Linked DNA regions of Homo sapiens: region 2 is linked to region 1. A link means that fine-mapping ties the variant in region 1 to the expression of a gene that starts in the linked region. Tissue or cell type: whole blood. Region 1 holds a variant in brackets; the other region holds the start of a gene. All regions are shown on one strand. Distances are between the middles of the regions.

Region 1 (5,379 bases):
GACTGAGGCGGACAAGGGGCCTCTTTCTAATTACAGATGACTATTAGCAACCAACAGGGAGAAAGAAAGAAAAATGAAAACAAGAAAAAAATGAATGAAAAAGAAAAGCACTGTAATCCTTTGCATTATCAAAAGTGATCAACAGTCGGTTCTTTACAGGCTGTGAGAACAACATTTCCACATTATTTTCCAGTCACTGCTACCAGCAGAAACTCCCTATAGAAGGAGGCTCATAGCAGCTACACACAGACAACAGAGAAGGAAGCTGCTTGGTATAGCCGTCACCTTCAGGACAACAGACAGCCAACAGAGCATTTCACCCTGAAGGTGTACGTGTGATTACACAAAACCCTCACTTGGTCATTTTTTTTACGTGTTTTAATAATGCTGATGCAAAATAAGAGTAAAATTACAGGTGCCAGTTCCCATTGTAGAATGCTGATAAACAACTTACCATTTTGCAGTGGCTGGTCACATCTGGAGCCTTTTGGGATGCAAAAGTACTGGAAGGATTATTGCAAAACTTAAAGACACTTTTGCTGCCATTACTTTGTTTTTAACCTAAATTAGTGTGGGTTTTCTTGGGGGGGTGCTGGGGGGATGCTTTTTTAGATAGTCTTAATGCTTATATTATAAACTTATTTAGTTAAACACTAACCAAATAACAAAATGAAAAAGGGGGTTAGGTTTAGAGTAGTTGCTTGAAAACTTTTCCAAATTGACCTTAAATAGACAGAGGCTGGTATAAAACTATGGATTGGTGGATTATGACTTATTAATTTTGGTACTATCAAAATCCTCAATTTAACCTGATGAAACTTGATTTGTCACTGTTGATATCTCTCTTACAAATGTTGAATTAGCATGTAATGTGCACAGTGTAAGAATAATAATATAAATGGAAGTGCATTGTTCCTATTCTTTATGGAGCTATGGTTTTTCATAACCACAAAAGAACATTAACATAAGAATATAATGTATTAGGGTATAGTTAGTATTTTGACTCTTTTTTAATAAAACTCTTCTTTTAGGATATAAATATTTCTCTGTATTTTGTGTCTGCTGCAAGGTAATTTGGGCTGGTACCAGGACTAGACATGGATGGGTGGAGAGAGTCTGGATCTTCCCCTTTAGGGTTTCATGATTCTTGTATGTTTTCCTCAGGTTGCTTCAGGACTAATTCTGCTTGTGTGTAGCTAGTAGAGCATGATCCCCTTGCCTTCTTTTCTTTTCGTGCTCCTCAGTTGAGAATATGCAATCTAAATCCTTAAGGTGCAAACTAGTCATATCTACCGAAGTCCAGCTTCCAGCAGATTCTTTGCTATATCTAGCATGTACGAAATCAGACATTTTAATGAACGCATGTGTTTTCCTGTAGTGTTACGTGGACTGACAGGCTGTGGAGATGTCTGAAGTGATTTGGCTGGACTCATTGCAGTCCTCCAGAAATCATTTCCTGTGGCATCATGCAGTGCATTTCTCCTAGGATTTCCTTGTCAAGAATATTCCTCTTTTAAGCAAAATAATAACTTATGGAGCCTAATGGATTTTATAGCTGAAGATTGAAGTAGTGTGCCCAGTATGTGAAGCATTCTAGCTTTCTTCATGCAAATGAGCAGATATGCTTAACAAGTCAATCTTGAATCTATTTGGTGAAAAAAGCCACTCTGTTGGCTGTGTGCTATTAGTACATGTAGATACAAGCACACACGGGCTTGGACGTGTATTAGCATCGGATGTTACTTCACTGAGAAAGTGATCTGTTGACCAAAATATGCATATCTGAATGGAAGCAGGCCTTTGTGGTGCTCTTTTCAATTCTAATCTGCTATGGTCTGAATGTTCGCATCTCCACAAAATTCACGTGTTGAAATCCTAACCCCCAAGGTGATTGTATTAGGAGGTAGAGTCTTTGTAGGGTGATTAAGTCGAAAGATCAGAGCTCTTATGTGTGGGATTAGTGCCCTTATAAAAGAAGCCCCAAAAAGCTTATTCTCCCCTTCCACCATGTGAGGACACAGAGAGAAGGCGCCATCTAAGAGGAAGCAGGCCCGTACCAGGCAGCAAATCTGCCAGCGCCTTGATCTTGGACTTCTCAGCCTCCAGAGCTGTGAGAAATAAATTTCTCTTGTTTATAAGCCACCCAGTCTATGATATTTTCTTATAGCAGCCCGAATGGACCAAGACAGCTATTTAAAGCCTGTGTAGTAGGAGACTTTCTGGCTGACTCGGTCAAGAAGTCAAAAAGAGATTTCTGTTTTCTTCCAAATCATGCTTATTGATTTGGAGTGAAATTCAGTGATGGGCTGTAAAGTAATAGGACTCACATAGTGAGTCAGAGGAAGGAGAAGATTAACATTTGTTGAGTACCTAATATGTGCCAAGCTTTTTTCATAAATTAACTCATTTATTCCTTACAACAAACTGGAAAGGAAATATTGTTACTCTTCATGTATAGATGAGAAAACTGAAAGAGAGGTTAAATAACTTGTCCAAGTCCAGAGTTCATATTTAGAAGAGCCAGAACTTTAATTTGGGTCTAACTCTAAAGTGTACGGTGTTTCCAACTATAGTGTGCTGCTTTCTGTGGCTTCTGAAACGTTATATAGGGGGACTCAGAGGGAGATAATTCCTTTGGAGGAAAACATCTCATATTGTTTGAAGTACATTTTCAAACCTACTTAGTAAACCTATGTGCTGCAAAGTGGGCCTGTTCCTCAGTTGTCTATGGTCCCATCTGCATTTTACATCTGGAAAAGCATATCTGGAAAGAGTTTCATCCTGGTAGCTACAAAGGACAGTTGGAAACTTCTGCTTTTTGTACAATAAAATCTGCAGTGGTCTTGGTAACGACCTTTCCAATTGTGGTATTATTGTTTTAGCTCTATTGGTTACGAGGAAGAGTCATTCCAAGGGAGTTTATTGTGAGGTTAAAATGGGCC[A/G]TCTTCTGGCCATCCTAGGAAAAAAAAAAAATCGTTGTATAGTCCATGGGCTGGATTAAGGACCGGACCTAGAACTAAGGTACTTCCTTTGTCTCCCCTGCCACCCTATGGCACTTTTTCCTTTTTTCTGGAAATCTGCTTCTTCTCTTATTGCTCCTCTCTGTACCTCTGCTCCATTCTCCATTGCCTTCCGCCTGCTCATCAGCATGCTCATGGTTGCACATGGCTACCATAGTTCTCAATTTCTTATGATCAGCATATTACTGTCTGAGGAAACTCTTAAGTCTCTTTAATTTCAAGAGAAGATCTGAGTCCCCACTGCTATTGAGTGTCCTTGCTCAGGTGTCCATCCCTAGTTCACCAGTGTCACTAGCGAGGGTGGCACAAACTTGACTGCTATGCCTACCACTTTAGCAAAGGTTACAGGTAAGGGCAGTTTCTGGAGAAAGGGGCTCTGAGTAATGCAGACACTTCAAATACGTCTCCAACCATAAACCAAAAATATATAAATGTGGCTTTATAGTTTTGGGAATGTTTTCATATAATCTTTGATCTGGAATAATTTATCCCTATTTTATACTTAAGGAAACTATGACCAACTGGTTGGATGATTTGCCCAAGGTCATTTGGCAAAGTAAACTAAAGACGAAAGCTTAGGTTTCTACCTGATTAGTTTCCACCATATTAGGCTGCCTCTTTTTCTACACAAATGTACACAATTTATGGAAGAAAGTTGTTTTGTTTTATTCTTTTTAATCTACAGTTTAATTCATAATTAGCATTCATGAATGAATTTGTTAATTTGAACCACAGTGGACTTTGGCTTCTCTTCCTAGTACCACACTTTAGTGTTGTACCTGAAGATTTGTATTGTACTCCACTGGAAGCTTGTGAATTCACTTTCTTATATTGGTATGGCACAAACTTGTAGGAATTATGGCTACTACAAAAAGGAAAAGTTGAACAGTTTGTTTTGGGCTGGAGAGTAATTGAGTTCAATTTTGTACAGGTAATAGAGTATGCCTTTAAATTATCATGTGCAGTATTTTGGAGATGGAACATTTTGGTTAAGGGAAACACCAGCTCCAAAAAAGTGGGGATGTCCTAAAAGACCATCATTAAAATACATAGAGAAATGAACCCTTAGTCAGGGCTACACCTGAACACATTTATGCTAGTTTTTTTAATGACTCCTGAACATCAAACCAAAAATCAAGAAAAAAACTGAAATGAAAATGCTCAGTTATTCTCTTTGCCCAGAGACAATGCAATTTCCCTGTGCTAAATTCTGTTAAATTTTCCAAAACTTGAAAAAGTGGTAACATTTTAAAGATGAAAGGAATTTGTTCCTTTCCTCAAGAAAAGAACAGTCTGGTGTAATGGACAAATTGAAATGCATCAAAATATAAAGTGCCTCTTTATTTCATTCGTAATGGACATATCTGTTGGCAGTGGCCACCATGGCAGAAAAGAGATGGCAATTTTTCATGCAGGAACATTACAAATAAATTCCTGTATGCTTGAAATGTCTGGAAAAGTCTGTGGAAATGGACCTTAAATGGTTACACAGTTAACATTCAGATATCAAAGAATTTTGCAAAATAGAAACTGTTTAAATATTAAACATCAAATTTTCCTTCTTTCAAAGGACTAATAACTTAGCAATAAAAATTGTCTTTGAATCTTGCCATCACAAGGTCTCAGTCAGGCAGTGGATTTTAAATGAAAACTTGCAGGCAGCTCTTATTTAAGCAAAATTAACAGCTGAGCAAAGAGGAATGAATTAGTAGACTGCCCCAAACTCACATTGACCAGACAACAGTCCACCTCCATTGCAGCACAAGCCTCTCTGTGGAGCTGCCTGCAAAGCGAAACCAGGATCAATGCTGTCAGGGAAATGCTTCTGCACAGAGGCAAGGCACTAATCAAGTTCTCCTGCAGCTGCTAACCTGATCCCCAACCGTTAAAGAAGAAACACACAGCCATGAGAGAGGAGCAGATGGTGGACAAGGAATCAGAGAAAGGGAAACAATAATGGGGGAATCCGGGGGCATGAAAATATTGGGCCACCCCAACAATAAAAATCCCTTTGTCCATAGTGATCAGGAAACGTTTTATTAAGATGTTCTCAAATAGGCTCACCCACATGAGGCAAAGGGTAAGGTTTGCCCATGCAACACCTGAGGCTGTTTCTGGGTAGGCAACTGGGGCCTTCGTACCAGTTTCCAAATGGGAGCCCTGTTACTGAACCAGAGTAAGAAGGCAGGGCCCAGTCAAAAGTAGCAGGAGTCATAACCTGGGAGGAATGGAAAGTTAGGAAACATCAACATATTTTTTTTTTCTGTACAATCATGTGCCGTAGATAAACGTTTTGGTCAATGACTACATATAAGAAGGTGGTCCCATAAGATTATACTAGAGGAAGCAGAAAGATGCC
Region 2 (5,373 bases), 34 kb after region 1:
ATGCCATTACCCATAGGACTTCCAAATGTAACAAATCTGGGTAAAAACCAATCAAATGAATAAATTATAGCAGTAGACAGCAAACAGTTTCTCCTGTTCTCTTTCTTCATTTTCCTTTCTCTATAGGAAATAGCAAATTAAACCATGGCTATTCATGATCTTGTACTATGAGAACACATATGGGCATACATTTTTGTCCTATTAACAAGTTTGTTGGCTTGGTGGCAGAAAGTAAAGTACACTGTAAAGACATCTTAATGCTTTGAGTAGGGTCATTTGTTAATGGACAGCCCAACCTAAAAGTCTTGTACTAATCTCTTATGGTACCCATTGGCTGTCTTTAAATGGATACTGAAGAGCAAAGGCAGGCAGCCCTGGTTATACACAAGAACCACGTGGAGCTTATGAAAAAAATGCAGGTACCTGGGTCCATCCCCAAGGTTTCTGATCCAGTTAGTATATAAACAAACAAACAAAACCCAACAACAATGAAAATAAAGGCAATTCTAACGTGCCATGATTGAGAACCATAGTTAAGAGAGTCCCAACACCAGTGCAAGGATAATACCTACTTTGTTTTTGGATAGTAGGACAAAGCCCACCCTTGGTTCGTTTTTCCAGGGGCAGGCAGGAGGGTGTCTGAGAAGCTGCCAGAGCTCTCTGAGAACTGACAGCATTCTCTGAGCAGCACCTTTATAGGGAGTATTCTATAAGAGATGGAGCCTTGATATACTAAAAATTTTCTGGGTTAAGGCCAATGGAAGTAGATAATTGAACAAAAAAATTACATAATGCTAACCTTGAAGTTGAGTCTGTAAACTGTGGCAACCTTATACACATTTGAGCATTTTGAGCAAAAGTTCATTAAGAGAGGCTGACTGGCTCAGCTTCGCTTCAATCACCCAATCATTGCAGGTCATTAGAAACAAAAAGAAGAATATGAATGCCATATCCTAACCACCCAATAACTGTAGGTCATTAGAAACTGACAGAAGAATTCTTAAGTCAGAAATGGCAAATTACATCTCTTGGAAATTAATCTACTTAAGCCAGTGTATTTTTTTCCCCCACTTTTCCCCCCTCATTTCCTTTATTGGCTTAATTTTTGTCCTTTTAATAAAAGTGCTTTTTTTCTTATATCTTTTTTTTAACGATAATGTCTGTCCTCTATTACTTTTAATCTTTTGCTATCACACTCTATGGCTTCTTCATTTAATCCTGTATCTTCTAGTCTTCTCATCTTTTTATACCTCACTTTCCTCATGTTTTTTTCCTTGTCATTAACACCAGTATAGAAAGTCCTTCCTCTTCATTTTCCCGTCTTTATGTCTGGTTGCCAACCGCGTTTTTGATTCTCGACCTCTCACTTTTGCTAACTGCCCTTCCTTAATCATCTGTTGATGTTTTATTCCTATCACTTCTGTCAATGCTCACACCCATTTCTTTCCTTTCCATCTATCTGTATATCTCCATATGCATTTTATGATCCTCCTACTAAATGCTTAAAGCTGTGTGTGTGTGGAATAGAACGGTACCTTCCTCCACGCGAATCCGATTTCCCTCTCCTCCCATAGCTACTTCTTGTCTATTCATCCTTTCCAGATGTCGCCCTGTCCCACCCCATCTGTCCCCTTCTTCCCCGTGTGAAGCCCATCTTCTTTCTAACCCCATTTGCACCCGTCTGATTTTACAGTCAAGGACTTCAATAAGATAAATGATGCAGAGTTCTACTGGGAACCAGATTGTGTGTGTTTCTGAAACTTTTGCGCGTTTACTGAAATGGGATTAGGGATTTGGATACAGAAACATTCTCGGGCAGCCTTTCAGCCCTGGCACAGCTTTGTACACCTTGGAGCGCGCTGGGGCCTATTCTAACGGGCAAGGACAGGGAAGTCTTTCAAGACCTTTTCTGGCCTTTTCCACTCCAGGGGTCAGGATGAATAGGCATCACTGACCCAAACTGTTAAACCAGGCCGGGTGGGGAAGCCTGGGGCCCTCTTCTGCGGCAGATCTGGCGGGGTGTCCAGGGCGCCGCGGGGCTCCGTGCAAGAAGGGGTTGGGGCAGGGGCCGCTGCGGCCGCAGGAGTCACCGGGCCTCCTCGGGAGGTCCGCTCACCTCTTACAGAGGAGGCCGACCCCAGGCCGGGTGCTCCCCTGGGGCGCAGGGCGCGGCCCCGGGCGCCGCCACCGCAGCGGCGCCGAGGGCCGGAGGTGCAGCCTTTCCCCAGGAGAGAAGGCGAGTCGCTGTCGGTCGCTCAGCCAGAAGGTCGAGGGAACCGCGCGGGTGTCCCTCGCCAGCCGGCCCTCTGGGAACAGGGCGGGGGCGACACCCCAGGGAGTAGGGCTGAGGACCGCAAAAATCAATCGTGGGTACCGGCGCGGGGTCACGCATAGGAGAGGAGCGGGAGAGGGGCTGGTGGGGGCCCCAGGGCGGCTGAGGCCGTGGCTCTGTCGTGGACTCGGCGGGCGCCCCGAAGTCTGGGGCCGCCACGGCTCCAGCTCCGCCGGCTCCGGCCGGAGACTCCAGGCCGCAGTTTCTCCTCCTCCCGGCGCCTTCTCTCCAGTGAGGAGCTGAGCGCGGGCGGCGCGGGGGGAGGGGTGGCGGCGGAGAGAACAGCCAGTTGTTTAAAATCCTTCTAGAGCAGTTTCTAATTCCCCCCTTGCGCCCGGGTTCGGAGGGGGGAGGGGGAAGGAGAGCGGGTGGAGGGAGGAGAGCGGAGAGGGAAGGCGGGAGGGAGGGAGTCGGGGAGGGAGGGAAGGAGGGAGGAGACTGCCGCTGAGGCTTAGCCGCCACCGCGCGCTTCGGAAGGCCAGAGGGAGGGGGAGGCCTGTCAGTCTCGCGCGTTGCCTGGGCGAAGGGGGCGGAGCTTTGGCGTGGGGCGGCCAATAGTGGGGGTGGCTGCGTGGGTCGCCATGGGGACGGGGCTGTTCCCGGGGAGGCTGTGATGGGTTGACAGGTGCGTGACAGTGGGAGCTGCTCTCGGCACAAGCATGTACGGCAAAGGCAAGAGTAACAGCAGCGCCGTCCCGTCCGACAGCCAGGCCCGGGAGAAGTAAGTGTCTCCGCTTCTCACCCACCTCCGCCTTCACACGCGCGCACACTCACGCACGCACTCGCACACTCTGGGAGACACAGACACTCTCCGCCCGGGGAGCGCCGGGGGTGGGCTGGCAGGGGGAGGGGTGCCGCGATGGGGGCGTGTGGTGCGGGGAGCTGCGCTTTCCCGGGAGGTGCGGGCGCTGGGCGGGCGGCCGCAGGGGGCTGTCGGCGGGAGGGACCGGGTGTGTTGAGGGGCGGCGGTGGTGCTGGTGGCGAGGATGGAAACTTGTTTGGGTGATTGAGGGAAATAACCCGCGGGTTCACCTTCCAAAGTAACTTTAGAGCTGGGGTCCGGGGCTCCGGGGACCTGGGGAGCCGCCGGGGGTGGCGGGAGGGGCAGCTGCGTGGAGGAAGGCGCGCAGTGGGAATGTGGGTGTTTGGCGGGCCGGCCGGGGTCGGGGCCGGGGTCGGGGCGGGCAGCGCGGGGAGCGCGGCGGCGGGGGCCTGGGCGCTGGGGCTTAGGGCCGCGAGCGCGGGGCGAGGCGAGGCGAGGGCGGCGGTGCCGGGCGCGCGGCGGGCGGAAGCCGGGCGTGGAGCGGCCGAGCGGGGCCCCGCGGGGCGCGGAGACGCGCGCGGGGCGCGGAGGGCGTGTGCGGGTTGGGCGTCCGGGCTTTCCTGGGCCAGCTACGGACGCGGCGCCCGCAGTCCCCCGCGCATCGCGGGGCTGGGGCTGGGGCTGGGGCGGGGGCGGGGGCGGGTGGGCGCCGGAGACGCCGCCGAAGTTTGGGAGTCGGAGAGGGACCGAGTTCCCGGGGAGCTAAAGTGTGTTGGCGAGGAGCGGGATCCGCTGGAGGAGGCTGGCGTTTCTGCCTCTCGCAGCGGACCCAACTCCGCGGCGGCGGCTGGCGAACTTTTTGTGAGGCTGGCAGCCCCCGAGCGGCGGGAGGGGCGGGCCCGGCGGGGCGGTGGTCGGGGGCGCGCGGAGGGGAGTTGTGGGAGCCGCCGGGGGCGCCCGAGGAGGGCAGCTGTGGCGGGGAGGGCCAGTGGTCCGAAAAGGGGTTTGTGGGAGGGGAGAAGCGTTCAGGTGGGAAGGAGCCGCTTGGTTACAGTTGTGGGGAGATACAGGTGTTAACTTCGGTGGGAGCCCAAGAGGCGGCTGGCGAGAACAGAGCCCCTCCCGGCCCGGGATGCCACTGTCACGGCACACTGCAAAGCAAAGCGGTTTGCTGCTATTCTTGTGTACTTGTAACGGTGATTTGGTTGTTACTAAAAATGAGAACGAATAGTGACTGTGATCACTGAGGAAGAACCCCCCCCTTTTTTTTTTAAACTGTGCAACAGATCAGTGATTCCCAGTAACCACTTAAACTCTGAGGGTCAGAGTTATCCTTGTCGTTGAACGCACCCTGTCTTTCTGAGGGGGTTCAGACCAGAGAAAAAGTCTGAGAGCATCTCTCAAAGGTACTTTGGTTACCTTGCGCACAGAAATAGCTGCGTAAATAAAAACCGAATGCGCAGGCGACTGAGTTTCCCTCCTTGGTTTAGGCAGTTAGTCTCCCCCTGAAAGTTTTGTGTGCCCTAGGGATGGGAACATTTCCTAATCTTTGTGTTGGCAGCAACACACTCAATTCCCATAGGATTTAGAGGTATCAGGCCTTGATGTAGCAAAGCAAAACAAAACAAAACAAAAATTAGAGAGGCTTTTTTGTTTTTTTGCAAGAGATATTTTCTGAGCTGCATTCAGGATCTTGTTGCTGTGACAAGTAGTATATAAAAGACATAGCGTTATAGCCTGGTTAAGAAACGGCAGTTACTAGAATTGAAGTTTTGAAATGCAGTCTCATTTGTGTGCATTAATCATTTTGTTATAATGTGCCTGATAAAAACATCTGAAGGAGGATGTTTTAATGATCACAGAATATTTGAATTTCACATTAGTCAGAGTGATTGAAATGTATTGAGGCATGATCTTATTTTGGGGGTGACTGAATTTGAGAATCAAAGTAATTTTAGATTTTAGGTGAACTTCCAGGAAGGGGTGAACTTTAGTTGAATCCCACTCAGTATCCTGAGGACTGCTTGATTTTTTTTTTTAGTTTCTCAGATAATAACAAGGATGTTGGAACTTGCATAACTGTGGTCCTTTCTAGCTCTAATTCTGTGATTTCCCACCAGGAAAACAAATAATTGCCACTTTGCTGTCAAATCTACCAAACTGAACACCAAGTAATATCTACTCTCGTGAGCAGATCAGGGTTCTGCTAGATGGTGCTATTTGATTTAAATATATTTCTTCCATTCATTTCAATTGGCAGCAGGAATTCTTGACTGGT

What was found. PIP is the estimated chance that this variant, and not a neighbour inherited with it, causes the effect.
Region 2: it holds the start of SSBP2, and the variant in region 1 is fine-mapped to the expression of SSBP2 in whole blood (TOPMed, PIP above 0.99).

The regions. Positions count from the first base shown.
Region 1 is chr5:81,783,043-81,788,421 of GRCh38, reverse strand. No RefSeq gene overlaps it. Among named protein-coding and RNA genes, the nearest start is that of SSBP2, 35 kb to the right of the region's middle. The variant A/G (reference allele first, on the strand shown) is at 2,943.
Region 2 is chr5:81,748,661-81,754,033 of GRCh38, reverse strand. SSBP2 (single stranded DNA binding protein 2) reads left to right here and starts at 2,937. Exons shown (of 17, transcript NM_001256732.3): 1 at 2,937-3,053. The coding sequence starts at 2,992. RefSeq lists silencers at 2,036-2,385, 2,656-2,985, 3,156-3,205, 3,646-3,695, 3,916-4,075.